Linked DNA regions of Homo sapiens. The protein of the gene in region 3 purifies or fractionates together with the protein of the main gene of each other region. This does not show direct contact. Each region holds a gene or a part of one and is shown on either strand. Other genes may lie near its edges.

Evidence for each region. Proteins that work in one complex are often made in the same cells at the same time.
Region 1: the proteins of CAMKV (region 3) and PNISR purify together in Homo sapiens (affinity purification with mass spectrometry; 4 studies listed by BioGRID and IntAct, with this or other methods). This does not show direct contact.
Region 2: the proteins of CAMKV (region 3) and GPATCH8 purify together in Homo sapiens (affinity purification with mass spectrometry; 4 studies listed by BioGRID and IntAct, with this or other methods). This does not show direct contact.

What each region holds. Positions count from the first base shown.
Region 1 is NC_000006.12:99,397,550-99,401,308, reverse strand, and holds the end of PNISR (arginine/serine-rich protein PNISR), read left to right. Parts: coding exon 1-769; 3' UTR 770-997; coding exon of another isoform or gene 998-1,035; 3' UTR 1,036-3,259; downstream 3,260-3,759.
Region 2 is NC_000017.11:44,430,407-44,437,406, reverse strand, and holds part of GPATCH8 (G patch domain-containing protein 8), read left to right. Parts: exon of another isoform or gene 1-861; coding exon 862-929; intron 930-2,255; coding exon 2,256-2,342; intron 2,343-7,000.
Region 3 is NC_000003.12:49,866,672-49,874,489, reverse strand, and holds the start of CAMKV (caM kinase-like vesicle-associated protein), read left to right. Parts: upstream 1-4,583; 5' UTR 4,584-4,732; intron 4,733-7,818. UniProt on the Homo sapiens protein: Does not appear to have detectable kinase activity.

The DNA of each region.
Region 1 (3,759 bases), on a different chromosome or scaffold from region 3:
TTCTCCTAAAAGGAAAAAGAGACACAGTAGGAGTAGATCTCCAACAATCAAAGCTAGACGTAGCAGGAGTAGAAGCTATTCTCGCAGAATTAAAATAGAGAGCAATAGGGCTAGGGTAAAGATTAGAGATAGAAGGAGATCTAATAGAAATAGCATTGAAAGAGAAAGACGACGAAATCGGAGTCCTTCCCGAGAGAGACGTAGAAGTAGAAGTCGCTCAAGGGATAGACGAACCAATCGTGCCAGTCGCAGTAGGAGTCGAGATAGGCGTAAAATTGATGATCAACGTGGAAATCTTAGTGGGAACAGTCATAAGCATAAAGGTGAGGCTAAAGAACAAGAGAGGAAAAAGGAGAGGAGTCGAAGTATAGATAAAGATAGGAAAAAGAAAGACAAAGAAAGGGAACGTGAACAGGATAAAAGAAAAGAGAAACAAAAAAGGGAAGAAAAAGATTTTAAGTTCAGTAGTCAGGATGATAGATTAAAAAGGAAACGAGAAAGTGAAAGAACATTTTCTAGGAGTGGTTCTATATCTGTTAAAATCATAAGACATGATTCTAGACAGGATAGTAAGAAAAGTACTACCAAAGATAGTAAAAAACATTCAGGCTCTGATTCTAGTGGAAGGAGCAGTTCTGAGTCTCCAGGAAGTAGCAAAGAAAAGAAGGCTAAGAAGCCTAAACATAGTCGATCGCGATCCGTGGAGAAATCTCAAAGGTCTGGTAAGAAGGCAAGCCGCAAACACAAGTCTAAGTCCCGATCAAGGTAGTATACTTTTTAAAGTATTTTGTCTGATTTTTAAAAAAAATTGACTGAATTTATTCAAAGTTGAAAGTGTCCTTTCTCTCTCTCTTTAATAAACTCAGTTTGGTACTTGATAAATAATCATAGTCTTAAATGTTAGAAATCCTATATAATATTATTTATTTAAAATTGCAGATTTTTAATTTAAAATACATTTTTATTTTTAAATTTTGTCTTTTCCCTTTTTTTTCAGATCAACAACCCCTCCCCGTCGTAAACGCTGAGGAATGATGTGGCAAGAATGCCATGATGTTCTTTAAAAAAATTCCATGAGTTTTAAGGGCTTGTCTCATTATAGAGGCACATTGTGGCTGTGTAGGTGAAACCAGAATCTTTTTTTTTTTTAATCTGTAAATAGGTGTACTTTTTCCAATGCTGCTCCAAGTTACTTAATAGGATTTCTTTGTATTACGTTTTTTTCAAAAAATATAGTGCATAATAAGACTATAAACATGCCATTCTCTTTCAGCTGTAATGTTCTTAAAATTATTCTTGAATGTACTGTGATGTCAATAAAGCTCTTTAGTTCATTTTTGTTAAACTCTTGCACCTTAATTTTATGGTTTTAATCTAAGGAACGTACTTTTATAAAAAGGCAGCTGGAATTTTGTATAACAGGTTTTAAAGGTACCTTCTCTCACCTCCCCCAAAGAAAATGGTTTTTACTTAATAGTTTGTCAAAGTTTGTAAATTGTACCCATGGACTTTTGCCAGATTCCAACTTTAAGGGTATGAAAGAGGGCTAGAAATAGACCTTTACTTTTCATTTGGAAGTATTTGACAACTTTCTAAACTTTTCTTCCTATTTTGGGGATTTTCAAGTAATATATTCTCTGTGTGTATAACGTGTGGTTCACTCCTGTAAAATGAAATTGCTGGAATCAATCAAGCCAGTGCACCAGTAGAGTTATTTGTAAGGAACGATTGTGTTTGACAGTAATAGTCAAGTCTGGAACTATATTCTACAGTCACCCACTTCTGTTTTAGAAGCATTTTGAAACACTTTTTGGGGTTATAGAAATAAGACTCATGATTCAATATATTTATTTATATTTTTAAAGTATAATATGACCTCAAATCAATGGAGGAATGCTGTATTATGCAGGTTTGTGTCAATTTCCTGACATTAAAATTGTCTGATTTTGTCCGTTTCTTAAAATTATGATTAGTGAGTGGTCTAACAGTTTAAGGCATTGATAACTTACAAGTAGAATGGGGCTCTCAAAGCATTTTAACTCAGTTGCTTTAGGGTCCATTTTTTTATGTAATCACTTACTCAGTGATAAATGAATCTCTGAAAACAAATGCTTTTACATTTTAATTTAAAAAGAAAACAGGTGCAGGCCACAGAAAAGTTTTAAAGTATGCCTTCTTACCAGCAATAGTTCATTTTAAAAATCATGCCAGATTTTTGCCAAGATCAGTGTTTCCTCAACATGAAGATAGAAATAGATTTGTATAGTGTGCTCTTGTACCTCTACATAGATTATTATATAATTTTGAGCAGTTACACATTTATCTAAAGGAAATAAATCAACTGTGAATAAATGCATGTTTACCAAAATGGCTGTTTACAGTGCATTTAGTTCTGATATTTATAAAGATGACATTTCACAGAATAACTTTAAAATAGTTTGAAATTCTATATAGTTTAGACATCGATCACATCTGGAGACAAAATAAAATGTGCAATATTTTTTATGTAGGCGAGCTAACACAGTGTACCTAATTGCAGAATTATCTGATTAATTTGTAATAGATAAGTTGTATAACATTTTCATATCTTAAAATGTTTTTTAGATCAATCTTGAAGTGAAATATTTTCAAAATAAAATTCTACAGAAAAATTCTGTTGGCTATGATATGCACATTTTTGGGCAAGTTATGAACTAGAGCCAAAAGTAGTATTTGACAGTTTTATTTACTCTGCCGTAATTTGCAAGCTTATCAGTTAAGTCTGTAGTTTTTTTAAAAGCCGTCATGATATTTGTGATTATTAGTACATAAACCAGTGTTATAATTTGATATTTGGGTTTTTCAGACTTTTAGTGGCAGATTTAGAGAATTCTTTATTTTCTTGACATGTGATATAGTATTTATTTACCTTGAGTGGTAAGGTTTTATAAGGTAGGGTTTCCATGATTTAGGATGTGAATGCAAAAACTTACACATAAGTTAATTAGATGTATAATTTGGTTATGAAATCTTTTCTAAAATAATACCACCAGAAAATTAACAGATCAAATTTTTGAGACAATCCTTGGTCTGGATTGGTTAATGAAAATGTCTTGTTTAAGAGGTTCTATTAAAAAATATTTCTAGTGTATTAGTCATAATTGTTTTTGTGGAGTGGGGGTAAACCACACCATTAAGGGAATAAAATGTAATTTGAAAGAGGTGATTATAAGATTTGTTTCAGGCCCCAAAATATAAATAAAAATTGGTGTGGAATCTCGTTAGTGTATATGTTTTCTGCCACTATAAAATTACCTTTTTAGCATCTGTTTCTAGTGGTGTAATACCAAGTAGGTAAATTTCGCAGTCTATTTTTAAGTGTCCTGAGTTTTTTGTTTCCTTAAACACATGAAAGGTAATAGTAAAGAATTTTTTACTGTATTTGGGAATTTTTACATAGGAGTTGTATTAGGTTTCCAGTCTCTGTAGTGTTGCCTTACAGAAATCTTTACATCTAAACTGAGTTTTTCTTCTCCTACATAAATTTAAATGTATTTTGATTTACTGAAGTTTCTAAAATGTACTGAGTACAGACATACACCACATAACGACGTTTCAGTCAATGACGGGCCACATGTACAACAGTGGTCCCATAAGATTATAATGTATTTTTACTGTACCTTTTCTGTGTTTAAATACACAAAACCATGATATTACAGTTGCCTACAGTTTTCAATATAGTATTTGTAGCCTAGGAGCAAAAGGCTATACCATGTAGCC
Region 2 (7,000 bases), on a different chromosome or scaffold from region 3:
GTGATGTAAAACAGCTGTGGTAGTAAAGTGCTTGTCTGCCCCATTTTGCTTTGTTTGGCTGGTTATGAGTGGATTAAATATATATTTATTAAAAAAATTATCCAGCATAGATCAATTAGTTTAAAGTCAATTTTCTTCGCAACTAGTCCTTTTCACAGCTTACCAGTTACCCTCGCAGCCAGTGTTAAATCCACTCTAGGAAATGGGACTTTAGAGCACCAGATTAAAAGGAAAACTATTCTTTTCTCTAAGGGCAACTAATTGTTTCTTTTTATTTAAACTTTTCACAGCCCCATTAAATTGTAAAGCATCTCCTAGTCTATGAGGAACATCAAAAAAAATTGTAAAGCATCTTTTGAAAACAAATTCAACATACTGAGTTGTAATTATAAAGTTTTACTGCATCATGTTTAAAAATGTACTTTTTCTATTTAACCATGCCAGTTGAGATTTTTTTTTTTAAACTAGGTTAAAAAGTTGTGTAGGAGGATATCAGTGGGCAGAGTAAAGTGATACTTGATGGGAAGTTATTTGGGGATCTTAAAAGGAATTTTTAAAGTTTTACAATTTAAACCTCCTGATGCCATTGCTTAAAAGTGCTTTGCATTACTTATTAATGTAATTTTGCCATAGTAATTTGAAATTAATCCCAACTGGACGTCAGCCAAGGTGGTTAATTGGGTTTAAACTAGGAAAGGAAGGTCTTGAGTGTAAGCTGTGAGAATGGCTTGTGTTTGGTTCACTGTAGCTTTCTGGTCTCTGCACTCCAAGGCAAGATCTCTAACCACCCAAAACCCAATGTGTAAAATGAGCTGTTGGTTTGGCTTTGCACCTTACCTTGATTATGTGTTCCTGTTACAGGGAGAACAGATCCCATTCCAATCGTTGTCAAGTATGATGTCATGGGCATGGGTCGCATGGAAATGGAGGTAAATTGATCTCATTAACTCATAAGTTTTGTGAGATATTTTGAAATAATACTAATTCCAAATTCAGATGTCTGTGCAAGAATACATTTATCAGATGAAATGTAGTTTTAATATTTTTCTTTGGATGACTAAAAAATATATTTTACATTTTCATTTAGTGCTACTTTTGAGACAAATAGAATATAAACAGAGCTGCTGTTTTAACTGGCACATAAAGAAGTTAAGTGATTTGCCGAGGGTTATACAGCAAGGCAATATCAGACTTAGATCCAGACCTTGGTACTTGCTTCAGTAGGCAGTGTTGCTCAGCTCTTAAAATGTTGCTGTGATAAAAGCTTTGCCTTTGTAGAATTGGGTACGGCTGTCACCTGTAATACCTGCTTTTCATTGCCTAAAATATTTTCTTCATTGACTCCTAATTCCTTTTTTTTTTTTTTTTTTTTTTTTTGAGATGGAGTTTCGCTCTTGTTGCCCAGGCTAGAGTGCAATGGCGCAGTCTCGGCTCACTGCAACCTCCGTCTCCCGGGTTCAAGGGATTCTCCTGTCTCCTGTCTCAGCCTTCTAAGTAGCTGGGATTACAGGCGCATGACACCATGCCCGGGTAATTTTTGTGTTTTTAGTAGAAACAGGGTTTCATCATATTGGTCAGGCTGGTCTTGAACTCTTGACCTCAGGTGACCCGCCCGCCTCGGCCTCCCACAGTGCTGGGATTACAGGTGTGAGCCACTGTGCCCAGCCTCAATTTTCAAAGAATTAGGAGTCGCTGGGCGCAGTGGCTCACGCCTGTAATCCCAGCACTGTGGGAGGCCGAGACAAGCAGATCACCTGAGGTGAGGAGTTCAAGATCAGCCTGGCCAACATGATGAAACTCCATCTCTACTGAAAATACAAAAAAAATTAGCAGGGCATTGTGGCGGGCACCTGTAATCCCAGCTACTCAGGAGGCTGAGGCAGGAGAATCACTTGAACTCGGGAGGCAGAGGTTGCAGTGAGCGGAGATCATGCCATTAAACCCCAGCCTGAGCAACAAGAGTGAAACTCCATCTCAAAAAAAAAAAAAAAAAAAGGAAAGAAAGAAAAGAAAATTAACATTGAAGTGAAGTCTACTTTCAACAAATGTGCCTTTTGGAAACTACCAGCCTGAAAGTAACAAACTATTTTGCATGTGATTTTCTCTGTGAGGTGACAATAAAGCAAGCAGTAGCTAAGCAAAATTACAATTTTTTTTTGTTTTCAGATAATACTGTAGTTGTGCAAATAACTTTTTCATAGCTAATCTTGGGGGTACTTTAGGAATTAAATCTAATCATATCTATTTTTGTCAAGCTTGATTATGCTGAAGATGCTACCGAACGGCGCCGTGTCCTAGAAGTAGAAAAAGAAGACACAGAAGAGCTGAGACAAAAGTACAAGGTATTTAAACAAAGCTATTCATTGGGAGATGGGGAGGTGCTCACTGAATAAGAAAGAACTCAAATTTTGTTGAAAATCATCACTGTTGCTAACAGCATTTGTTTGACATTTGGTGGTAATTAGTAGTAGATCTCAGATTTCTATTACATTCCTATTTATTGGCTCTGTATAAACTATAGAGATAATAATACCTACTTCTAAAGTGTGTTAGAAAGATTACATGAATTAGTGTTTGAAAACACAATGCCTGTTACATAGTAGGTATTCAAGTAGTGGTAGCAGTAAAAATTGTTAAAAGTCCTTTGAGGCCAGACACAATGGCTCACACTTGTAACCCCAACACTTGCAGAGGCCAGACACAGTGGCTCACACTTGTAACCCCAACACTCAGTAGAGACGGGGTTTCACCATGTTGGTCAGGCTGGTCTCGAACTCCTGACCTTGTGATCCACCCGCCTCGGCCTCCCAAAGTGCTGGGATTACAGGCGTGAGCCACCACGCCAAGCCTAATTTTTGTGTTTTTAGTAGAGATGGGGTTTCACCATGTTGGCCAGGCTGGTCTTGAACTCCTTGCCTCAGGTGATCTGCCTGCCACGGCTTCCCAGTTTGCTGGGATTTCAGGCGTAAGTCACCGCGCTTGACCCCCTTTCTTGTTTTTGAACTTAGCTTAGCTATATATTAAATTTTTGTGTGTTTTATTTTATCCAGAACTATAATATAACCAACTCATCTTCTTTTCCTGCCCCTTTTTCTTTCCCCTTTTTCTTCTCCTTTCCTCTCTCTTTATTCACTCTTCAGCCTATTTATACTGACTTTAGCAGTTTTCACCAAACCACTTTATTCAAGGCCACCAAACACTTCTATTTGCTAAATCCAATAAATCATTTATTTATTTATTTATTTTATTATTATTATTAATATTATTATTTTTTTTAAAGACTGAGTCTCACTCTGTTGCCCAGGCTGGAGTACAGTGGTGTGATCTAAGCTCACTGCTCCCGGGTTCAAGTGATTCTCGTGCCTTAGCCTCCGAGTAGCTGGGACTACAGGTATGAGCCACCACGGCCAGCTAATTTTTTTGAATTTTTGGTAGAGATGGGGTTTCACCATGTTGGCCAGGCTGGTCTCGAACTCCTTACCTCACGTGATCTGCCCACCTCGGCCTCCCAAAGTGTGGGGATTACAGGCGTGAGCCACTGCGCCTGGCATACTCTTTCTTCTTTAAAACATTTTCATTACTCTTGGTTTTGAAGAATTTATACTTTCCTAGATTAGTTGCTTCTTATCTGTCTTGCTGCTTCTATGTAGATTCCTTTGTTGGCTGCTGTTTATTCTGCCTGAACTTCAGATATTGGAGTTCCTCAGCTTCAGACCTGGGCCCTCTTTTTCTGGCTACATTCTTTCTCTAGGCACAAGAGTGGTCATGACACCATGTTTCATCATCTTTCACTTGGTTAAATTTTCTCCTTTGGGTTTTAGCTTAAATATTACCTCATTATAGATCTTCCCTAATCAACTCATTTAAATAATTAACCACTCTGCCTTATTCTCTTGCAACAACCTCTCTTACAATTTGTAATTATAAATTTTTATTCACTAATTTATATTCTGCTTTCTGTACTAGTCAGAAAGGGCATTGAGGAGAGAGAGTATGTCTATTTGTCTGCCAGTATATATCCTGCATCCAGCACAGTGTGTGGTGCATAAGTACTCAATAAATATTAGTTGAATGAATAAATATTTTGAAATAGTGAGAAAAGCCAGATTCATTTTATGTACTGTCTGAAATATAAACATTATAAAGAATACATTTTTATTTTTCAAGTAAAAGTTACACTGTCGAGTGAAAAATAAATGAAATACCTCAGTAATTCACAGCCTCATAAGATTATACATAGTATCTTGAGATGCTCTCTCCCTGGTAATAGAATTATTTCTCGGCTGGGTGCGGTGGATCACGGCTGTGCTTTGGGAGGATTGCTTGAGCCCAGGAGTTTGAGAGCAGTCTGGGCAATGTAGCAAGAATCTGTCTCTACAAAAAGAAAAAAGAAAAAAAATAGCTAGGTGTTGGTGGTGCATGCCTATAAATCCCAGCTACTTAGAGAAGCTGAATTGGGAGGATCACTTGGGCCCAGGAGTTGAAGACAGCAGTGACCTATGATCACACCACTGCACTCCAGCCTGGGCAAGAGCAAGAATTACTTTCCCCATCTTATTGATCAAAATATTTACTCCGAAACCCTGTCAACTCTGAACTACACTGTTTCTAAAATCTTAAATGTCCTATTATCTGACCATGGTCTTTTTTCCTTCCTGCTGTCACTCCTTTATTCTCCTATATTTTTTCTTCAACTTCACATGACTTTGGAAGCTTTAGTAACTTAGCTCCTCCTTAATTTGTACTTTTCCCCTCTAGCACCACACACTCATGTTTACCTCTCACAGCACTTTGATTCCAACTCCCTTTCCTCCTAGTCCTTTTGTCATACATACTCACCAAAAGCCTGTCCCGTTAGTACAAAATGCATTACTTGCATTCTTTATTTCTATACCCTTTCTGCCAACCTCACTGGGCCCTCAGAGCTGCCAATTAATCCTCTCATGTGTCATGTCCCTCTTAGTCCTCTCAGCTGTCATTCTCAAACATTGGTACTCAGCCTTCATCTTTCCTTAACTACCCTTGTCGTATCTCTGCCTTCCCGTATGTTTTTAGTTAAGAAAGAGAATTTGGACCATCAGGTAGTAATGCCTTCATCTACGTATACTATCCTACATCAAACGAGGGTTCACCTGCTCTCATACTTCAATATTTCTCTTTTGTTTCACCATCTGTTAAATGATAATTTGTACATACATCTGAATTCTGGATCCTAACTCTCCCTGTCTTATCAAAGACCTTCCACTTCTTTCCTGTATTGGCAACCTTTCTCTTTATTTGTTCTTTTCCTATCAACAGTAAACATACTTGAAGATTTGTTGGGAGAGGGAATCCTAAAATTAAAAAAAAAAAAAAAAAACCCACTCTGATTTACTCTCCATATAGCTACCACCTTCTCTTTTCACTTGTCTTTAGAACCAGAATTCTTAGTCACTACTCTGACTGCTTCCTTTTCATCACTCTCTCATCTCTAATTTTATAGAGATGGGATCTCACTCTGTCGTCCATGCTGGAGTTCTGTGGTGCTATCGTAGCTCACTACAGCCTTAAACTCCTGGGCTCATACAATCCTCCCACCTCAGCCTCCCAAGTAACCAAGACTATAGGCGTGCACCACCATGCCTGGCTAATTTTTTTTTTAAGAGATAGGGTCTCACTATGTTGCCCAGGCTGGTCTCAAACTCCTGACTTCAAATGATCCCCCTACCTCAGCCTCCCATTTTTATTTTTTAATTTTCATTTTTATCAAAGTTTTACTTGTATATAGTCTTAGAGCCAAATAGCTCTACCAGACTTTTAAAAGAAAAAACAAAAACTGCAGTCTCATTTGACATTCTTGTTATTTTATTAAATATTTTTAATATGTGAGATATAAAGAAAAACTATAAACACTTAGGTATTTTCTACTCAATTTAAGAAAAAGAGCACTATCAGTAACTTCATGATCCCATCACATTTCTGTCTCCTTTAGAGATAAACACTATGCTGATTTTTGTGTTTTTCGCCTTTTTTTTTTTTTTTTTTTTTTCCTTTTTGAGACAGTCTTGTTCTGTCACCCAGGCTGGAGTGCAATGGCAGAATCTCAGCTCACTGCAACCTTTGCCTCCTGGTTTCAAGCAATTCTCCTGCCCCAGCCTCCTGAGTAGCTGGGATTACAGGTGTGCACCATCACACCCAGCGAATTATTTTGGTATTTTTAGTGGAGACAGGGTTCTGTCATGTTGGCCAGGCTGGTCTAGAACTCCTGACCTCAAGTGATCCGCCTGCCTCAGCCTCCCAAAATGCTGGGATTACAGGCGTGAGCCACTGTGCCTGGCCCCCTCACAATTTTGTAGGTAAAATTGTTGTTGAGATAAAATTCACATAACATAAATTTACCATTTTAGTCATTTTATAGCAATACTACAATTTAATGATTTTTAGCTTATTTACAGTGTTGTAAAATTATCACCACTGTGGCCAGTGCGGTGGCTCACACCTGTAATCCCAGCACTTTGGGAGGCCAAGGTGGGCGGGTCACTTGAGGTCAGGAGTTCCAGACCAGCCTGGCCAAAATGGTGAAACCCCTTCCCTACTAAAAATACAAAAAAAAAAAAAAAAGCTGGGCGTGGTGTTGTGTGCCTGTAATCCGAGCTACTCAGGAGGCTGAGGCAGGAGAATCGCTTGAACCCAGGAGGCGGAGGTTGCAGTGAGCCAAGATCGCACCACTGCACTCCAGCCTGGGCGACAGACAGAGTGAGACTCTATCTCAAAAAAAAAAATGCAACAGTGAACATTCCTGTCGTCTTTCTGATCTTTATAGAGAAGCTTTCAGTCTTTCACCATTATGATGTTAGCTGGGGGTTTTTTGTTCTCATCAGGTTGAGGAAGTGCCTAATTTCTAGAAATTCCTGCTTTGTTTAGTGTTTTTACCATGAAAGAGAGTATTGGGTTTTGTCAAATGCTTATTTTGCATCTACTGAGATAACCTTGTGGGTTTTTTCCTTTTATATTCTGTTAA
Region 3 (7,818 bases):
CACGGGGCCTGCTATGAACTGGTGTCCACCATGGATGCTCTGCCAGTTCGGTCGCCAGTGCTCTGCTGCCACTCACTGGGACCCTTCCAGGACATGGCGGCCGTGGTGATTGATACAGGCACAGGATTCACCAAATGTGGACTGGCGGGAGAGGACCATGTCCTCAGTGTCATACCCTCACGAGTTCAGCTGCTGCAGCACCCAGCCCAGGGCCAGCCACGATATGCAGTGCCTGAAAACCAAGTGGGATCCTATTCAGTGCTGAACCGTGGTGTGGTCTATGACTGGGATGCACTAGAGGTGCTATGGCAGCACCTGTTCTATTGAAGGCTGGGTGTGCAGCCCGAGAAGCTGTCTGTGCTCGTAGCCGACTCGCCCATCTCACCACTCACCAACCGAGAAAAGGTGGCTGAAATACTCTTTGAGCATTTCCATGTCCCAGCCATGCAGACAGTGCATCAGGCCCTGCTGGCGCTCTATGCTTATGGACGTACCACTGGGCTGGTGCTGGGCAGTGGCCATGGCACTTCCTATGTGGCACCCATCCTCACTGGGGATCTGGCCCCACTTGACACCTACCGGCTGGATGTGGCTGGTGCTGACCTTACTGACTACTTGGCCCAGCTGCTGCAGAGAAGTGGCCACTCACTGCCCCAGGCAGGACTGATCAACCAGATGAAAGAGGCCTGCTGCTACGTGGCCATGGATGTGGCAGCTGAGAGGGCCCACACCCAGGCGCAGGCCGAGGTGGACTTTGTGCTTCCAGACAAGCAGGTTATCACGCTGGGGCCTGAGCGCTTCTGCTGCCCTGAGGCCCTCTTCCAACCCAATCTGATAGGTCTCAACCAGCTGGGCCTTCCACAGCTGGCCCTCCTAAGCATCAGCCGGTTGGAGGCCAAGCAGCAGGAGCAGCTACTGGCCAATGTGGTACTGGACGGTGGCAGCACCCTCATGAGTGGCTTCCCTGAGCGCCTGAGACAGGAGCTGGGCCCTGGTGCCACTGTGCTGGGGTCTCCCCACCGTGCAGTTGCTGCCTGGCTTGGGGGCTCCATCATGGCATCCCGGAGCTCTTTCCAGAGCCTGTGGCTCAGCTGCCAGGAATATGAGGAAGAGGGCCCATGGGCTATCTATAAGTACCAGCTGTGAGCATATAAAAGTTCTGGTTCTGCTTTCTTTAAGCACCGTGGCATGTTTCAGCCACAGGGTGGTGTGGGAAAAGCAGGAGTCCAGGCATGGGGTCATGGATGGGGGCCCTGGCTCTCTCCAAAGGCATGCCCTGCCTCTGCACTCTGGAACTCCATGGGCCCTGGCAACCTACCCTTTCTAGACAGCCCCGGAGCCCCTTGACTGGCATTGGCTCTGATCTGGCCTGACCTTTACTGCACCCCAAGGGCAACCACAGACAGTGGCTGCTGTGGGTTTTGCCCCGTTGCCCTGACGACAAGTGCAATTACCCTTGATTGCCAGCTTGTTGCCATGGCAATTTCAAACATAATGTAATAACCCACACAGCCTGGAGTGAGTCACAAGGTGGGGGGCGGGGGGCAGCCCCCTCCCCTGGCTCCAGAGGAAAAGACTGCTTGCCCTTCCCCATTGTGGGCCCTCTTCTGGGGACTGAAGCCAAGCAACATGGACAACAGTCAGGCAGTTTCAAAGATGGCTGGGGGCCTGGGGTGGGAGGGTTCTGTCAGAGTTCAGGCTTCTTGGGGAGCTGCACTGGTAATCTAGGTACCTCCTAGAGTCTGAACCTTTGCTGGAGCGCTATGCTGGGTTAGCAGGGGCTTCTATCAGCCAGCCAGAATCTAAGGGCATAGGAGTGCCGGCCTTTGGCACCCTAGAGCTGGGAGTTGGGGGCACAGATAAGTCCTGGATCCTGGGTAGGAGGCCCAACCTGAGCTGGGGGATGAAGCTCTGTGGATACTGCGGCTCGCACCTTATTCTGCCCCTCTGACTTTCTAGCTTTGGTGGGAGCCAGAACTACGAACTTGGGCCCTCTTCTCCTCCTCAGCCTCCCAACCCAGGCAGCCCCTGTCTTCAGGGTACAGGCCTCCTTAGGAGGGTCCTCATAAAGGCTACTAGGCAATGCTAATCTGGATTGCCTCTGCTCTTGTTCCAAACTCTGGTCTGTGCTAAAGGGCCTCCTGCCATCACTCTGGCCAGTGGAGTGGTGAGAAATCATGTCCCCTGACCCCGTCTGGCTTTGAATAGTGGAAGTAAGAACAAAGCTCAGCATTGGTCCCGTCCCTGCCCTGGAAGAGCTAAGAGGATGGCATTCAGCTGATGTTACTATCTCCTGCCTGAAAGGCAGCTGGAGGTTGAAGCCAAAACATTGAAGCCGGTCCTACCCTGCCTGTGCCTTCCTGTCTAGGGGCTGAGGGATAAGCCATGGCTCAATCCTAGCCCTGGGTTCTTGTCTTCAGATTGCCCTCCACAAATGGCAAAGACTTGTCTATCTTCACATACACCAGAGATCAAGGGGCTGCTCTGGTGGGGAGCCTGAAAACAGCCAATGATGTAGGGTCAGCACAGACCCTGCCCACTGCTGGACATGGTCCAGCCCCCTTCCCATGTCCAGCTCTCAAAGCCTGATTCAGCCTCCACAATCCTGAGACTTGTGTCAGGCAGGAAGGGGACTGATAACTCCAGGGACCAGCTACAGCGTCCACACACACGTGCCAGCAAGCATGCCTGGGTGCACAAAGAATGCAGACACACGTGCCCCTGGGCACCACTGCATACACTGTGCTGTTGCATCTCCCTCGGCAAAAGAGAGCATACACAACACGTACACGTGTGCACACACACCCTGCCACGTGCTCTCACCCACATGCACAGAGCGTGCTTAGGACCAAGAAGAGGTGGAGTACTGCCAGCAGCAGGCAGGGCGCTAAGGAGCCACCCCTTCCCCTGCCTAAAAATCCCCATTCCAGCTTCTCATTGACCCCCATGCCTGGATAGCCATGACCCTCAGGAAAGACAGAAAACATGTATGTGGCATGTGTGGGGTCAGCAAGCTACAGCTTGGCTACACCATAAAACTCAGAGACCCATTGTTTCAAGAATAGTGGGCAGATGGCAGGAAGGACTCAGTGCCAGGCCATTCATTCATTCTGCAGACATCAGCCGAGCATACTGAGATGAGAAACGGGTTCTGCCTTGCAGATACCCAGCCTGCCAGGAGATTCCTACCCAGTGGTGGGGTGGGTCCCATAACCCGAGACCACTCAGAGCCCAGGGACCCCAGAAGTGGCACCAGCCTGGCCTAGAGGAGGTAACACCAAGCCAGGGAGGAAGGTGAAGGGCTCAGTACCCCCTCTGGAGGAAAATTTTGAGGAACCTTGTTTGAGGCGGTCATTTCCTAAGCTAGCCTTCAGTCTGAGCCCCAGCCCCAGCTTCTGGACTTGGACAGTCCCTCCTGTCATCAGCCATGGGTGGCCAGGGCAGCCTCAAGATGGCTGAGGGTTTGGGGATGACCCCAACTCCCTCTCCCACAGCAGGGTCAGGAGGCTCACTGGGAGGAGTGAGGTGGGATAAAACCCAGCTCCAGACACTGAGAGGCCTGAGTCTGGTCTTCAGATACTGGCCTTAGGATGGTCCTCAGGGCTTGTGAGGGGTGTGGGTCAGGCTTTGGGTCCGTGAGCCTCACTGACAAGGGACAGAGAAATGGCCAAGGACTTCCTTTAAAGCTTCCTCCTGGTGGTTCTGAGCCTCCTCCCTCTGATTAGCACCCAGGCCAGGTGGGATACCTTGGTGCCACAGTTCTCCTGTGTCCCCATATCCCAGGCCAGGCCACTAGAGTGATACAACTCATGAAGTGTTTGACAGTGATTAGACTGAAAAGAAAGCAGAGGCCACACCATGTCACAGGTGACTTTTATAGTTTGGGAAATTTGGTGCCACACAGGAAGGGGCTGACTGTGCTGCCACCCTTGCTGGTACTTATGTTTGGGAAAGACTCTGGCCTTGCAGGAGTTGGGGATGGGGTGGGATAGGAGACTTTGCTACTACAGTCTAGGGCCCTCACTGTTTTCACACTGACTACCTGCAAACACACACCTCTGTGTGTTTACTGCTCCTAGCTAGGGGATGCGTAGCTAGGGGATGCTAGGGGATGCCACACTGACTACCTGCAAACACACACCTCTGTGTGTTTACTGCTCCTAGCTAGGGGAGCCTGCCCTAGCCCGACTGCCCATCTGGTTTTTCTAAGTTGGTCCTGCCTTTTGGGTCGGGTTCGGGGAGCTGGGCAAAGCCCCGTTCCCTAGAGACTAATGACTGGCAAGCGATCCTATGCAGCTCCAGGACTCAGGCTTTCCCCCAACTCTCCACTCACCACCCCTTACATTGGGCATAGGAGGCCTCCTCCGGCCCCAGGCTGAGGGCCTAAGGGAGCCATTGAGAACCTTGGCCAGGGCTAAGCAGGCCAGTGCTCACCAGCACCGCTGCCATCCCGCGCGCTCCTGCTCTCCAGTGGGATTCTGCCCTTAAGGCTCCGCCAGGGTCGGGGCGGGGCCGGTTGGGAGGCCCCGCCCCCAGCCCGCCCCCGGCCCGGGGTGCGAATCCGGTGCCGGCAAGCGGCTGGCGATGCTGGAGGTTCGCTAGCCGAAGCGGCTGCATCTGGCGCCGCGTCTGCCCCGCGTGCTCGGAGCGGATTCTGCCCGCCGTCCCCGGAGCCCTCGGCGCCCCGCTGAGCCCGCGATCACTTCCTCCCTGTGACCAACCGGCGCTGCAGGTGCGGGGCGGGCCGGGCTGGGGGCGCTTCCCGAACGCAGGTTGTGGGGCCTTGGGGGATTGTTTCCCTGGCTCGAGGTGCGGGATGCAGAGTGCGCGGGGGCGCAGCGAGGGCTCGAGGTCCTGGCGGGGTCAGAGCGCGCGGGCTTTGCAGATTTGGGGGAGGGAGTGCGGGGTCGGGCTAAAGTTCCCCATTACCTCGGACGGCTTGGGGGTTCTGGGGGGAAGCTTCTGCGGCTCGGAATTGTGAAAAGATTAACCCTCGAAGATTCGTGGTCCCCCGTGAGGATAGGGGCCGAGAGCTGAGCCGTCCCTCCCCGTTCCCAGAGCCGCCTCCAGCCCCTCCCAACTGTCCCCGGGCCCCTTCCCTCCCGCTTAGCAGTCACTAATTTCCATGACAACGGAGAGTTCTTTATGGGCGACAACCCGGAGGGGGCTGGGCGGGGCTGCCGCGGGGTGGGGGAGGAAGCTCCAAGCCCCTGGGGACCAGCAGCCCCCCAGCCAAAATTCAGCTTCCAAGCCTTCACCTGGGTGCCAGCTGGGGGTCCAGTGCATGGACCCACGTGCACGGTGGGGGTGGGGGCGCACATGTTCCTGCTGGGAGGTGCGGGGCTTGGTGCTCACACGTGTGCTTTCCGCATGTGTGTTGCTGTGCCAGCGGGGGCGAGCCAGCAGCACTTGGGAAAGGGGTCAGGGTGGCAGCACGGTGGGGAGCAGGGCCCCTGGCTGGAGGTGGCTGGGATAGTGACAGCATGAGCTTCTGCCTTCCCCAGCTTGTACTGTTTGGCAGAGACCCTGGGCTCTTGAGCCCCAGCCCCCTCCCCGCATAGCTCTGCCAAATTGCTTTTGTCCGCACCTCCCAGGCAGATCCTGCTCCACCAGGTTCCTTCCTAAGGATCAGGGCCCTCTGTCCCACACTAAAAGCTCAGAGTCTGCAGTAGTCCAGTCCCTGTGCTGTACTCCCCTTACCCCCAAGTCCAGGCTTTGAGCCCCCAGGACTACCTTTAGAGACCTGGTGCCCTCCCCCACCCTCAGAGTTGATTCCTGGCAGCTCCAGCGACTTCTGAGCCTCAGTTTCCTCAACTGGGGAACTGGTGTCTCCACTCAGAGTCAGGTTGGTTTCCAGGGTGGGGCAAGGGTCTCCCTTTTCTAATATTTGGTGTGGACCCTTCAGGTGCTCTCCTAGGCTGGCTGTTCACATATCTCTGATGGCCCTACTCTCCAGCCCCATGCCCTGGCCACCATTCACAGGCAGGCAAGCAGTCCTCTGCCCTGGGAGAAGGCCAGATTCCATGGTTTCCATTAGGGGAAACTGAGGCATGGGGAGGTGAAGGGCTGTGTGGTTATCCTGTTTCTGGGTTGCTTGTGGTGCCGTTTCTGGCACTCATGGCAGGATCTGCTGTTGGGGGTTGGTGAGAGGGGATTAAGCAGAGCTGTAAGAGGGGCTCTGGGGACCCAAAGCCTGGAAAGGATAGCAGATGGGGGAGGGGTTGGCTGGGAGGGTCTAAGTACAGCTGGGCCAACTGAGAAGAGGGACTATAAAGGGAAGCAGCCAGGCATCCGAGCCTCATTTCCATACCCCTATGCGTCTGCCTTCAACATGTTGGACCTGCTTTACCTAAGCTGCCGTGATGGCAGAGAGACGGGCTGGGAACTGTCCTGACTGGGGGGCTGCAGCAGCTGGCCTCTTCCCCACCAACATGCTCCAAGGAGCTGGCCTCCTTTTGGCTGTGCCTCCTACACCAAGTTCAGTGTATGTTTGGGGGATACAGGAGGGTGCAGTCTCGAAGGTCCCAGTACCATGGATAGCTCCTGGCCCAGGGATTTAGAGCACATCGCCATGGAGGCCTTAGGGCTCTGCTGGGCACCCATCCGCCCCCTTCAGAACTCCCGTCCACCTCCCCTTTCCTGCCCTTTGTGCCTGTGTCCCTTTTACTTTGTCATCTCCTTGCTCCTCTTCCATCACAGGTTCTGTCTTTGTCTGTGTCTCTGCCCCATTCTCTTTTTTCTAAATTCTCTCCATCTCCCCACCTCCCCTTTCTTGATGGGGACCTGGGTCACAGAACCTTGAAGAAGCAGCCAGGCTAAGGTCTCAGGAAATTCTTGAAGAAGGGACCTGACCAACACATCTCCCCTCCCCCTCCCCTTGTTTTAAAACTTCCATCACCATAGCAACCCTTTACTCTAGTGCCTTCCTCTGCATTTCCCCTCCTCCACCCACAGGGAAGCAGAGCCTCCAGTGGATTCTCCTTCAGGGGTTCAGAGATTTGGACCCCAAGTGCTTGGGAGGAGACAGCTGGCCTTTGGCTTTGCCTGCATGTTGACAGCTAAACTTTCGGGATGTAGCACTGGACTGCATGCCCACCCCCAAAACTGGAGAGACCTCCCCACAATACTCCCTCATTAGATGGGCAAAATTCAGCTGTAGGAACTTCTACCATGATTTAGCTCGAGCCGGAGGCTCAGTCAGGGCAGCCCCTTGACCGGTCCCCTGAAGCAATTGGATGGTGGTCTAGAAGCTTGGCCCTTGTTCTTAACAGACCTTGAGGGAGGTCTTCAGCTCCCCTGGTCCTGTGGGTGACACCTCAGCTGTGAGTTAAGCAGGGCTTGGGCTTCAGCATGTTCATTGCAGCAGGAAACCCAGCCCCAGCCCTTGAGAGAGTAGAGCAGCAGAGAGGAGGGGGTGCCTGCAGGCTGGTGTTCACAGCTGCCACTAAATTAGGAGGTGTTGCCTACAGTTGTTGGGAGGCAGCTGGAGGCCTCTTGGGCCCCTCCTGGCCTCCCTAGATTTACTGCAAGCTCTGGAGCCCCACGTGGCAGGGGACCAAGGTAGCAGGAAACTCTGTTTATGTCTATGAAAGGTAGGGCCTGAACCAGGATGATCTCAGCGGAGGAGGGGACAGGACCCCAATGTGGGGCCTCCGGACCTCTTGGCCTTTGTCCCGTTTGGGCTTTCCCTGGGCCAGACTTACCTAAAGATGCAGCAGAGTCCCTGGGGGACCATTTATCACCAGGGCACCAACAGAGGACCCCTCAGGATTGCTGGAGGCTCAATTCCCTGAGTCCAGTGGTCAGGCCCTGGGAGCA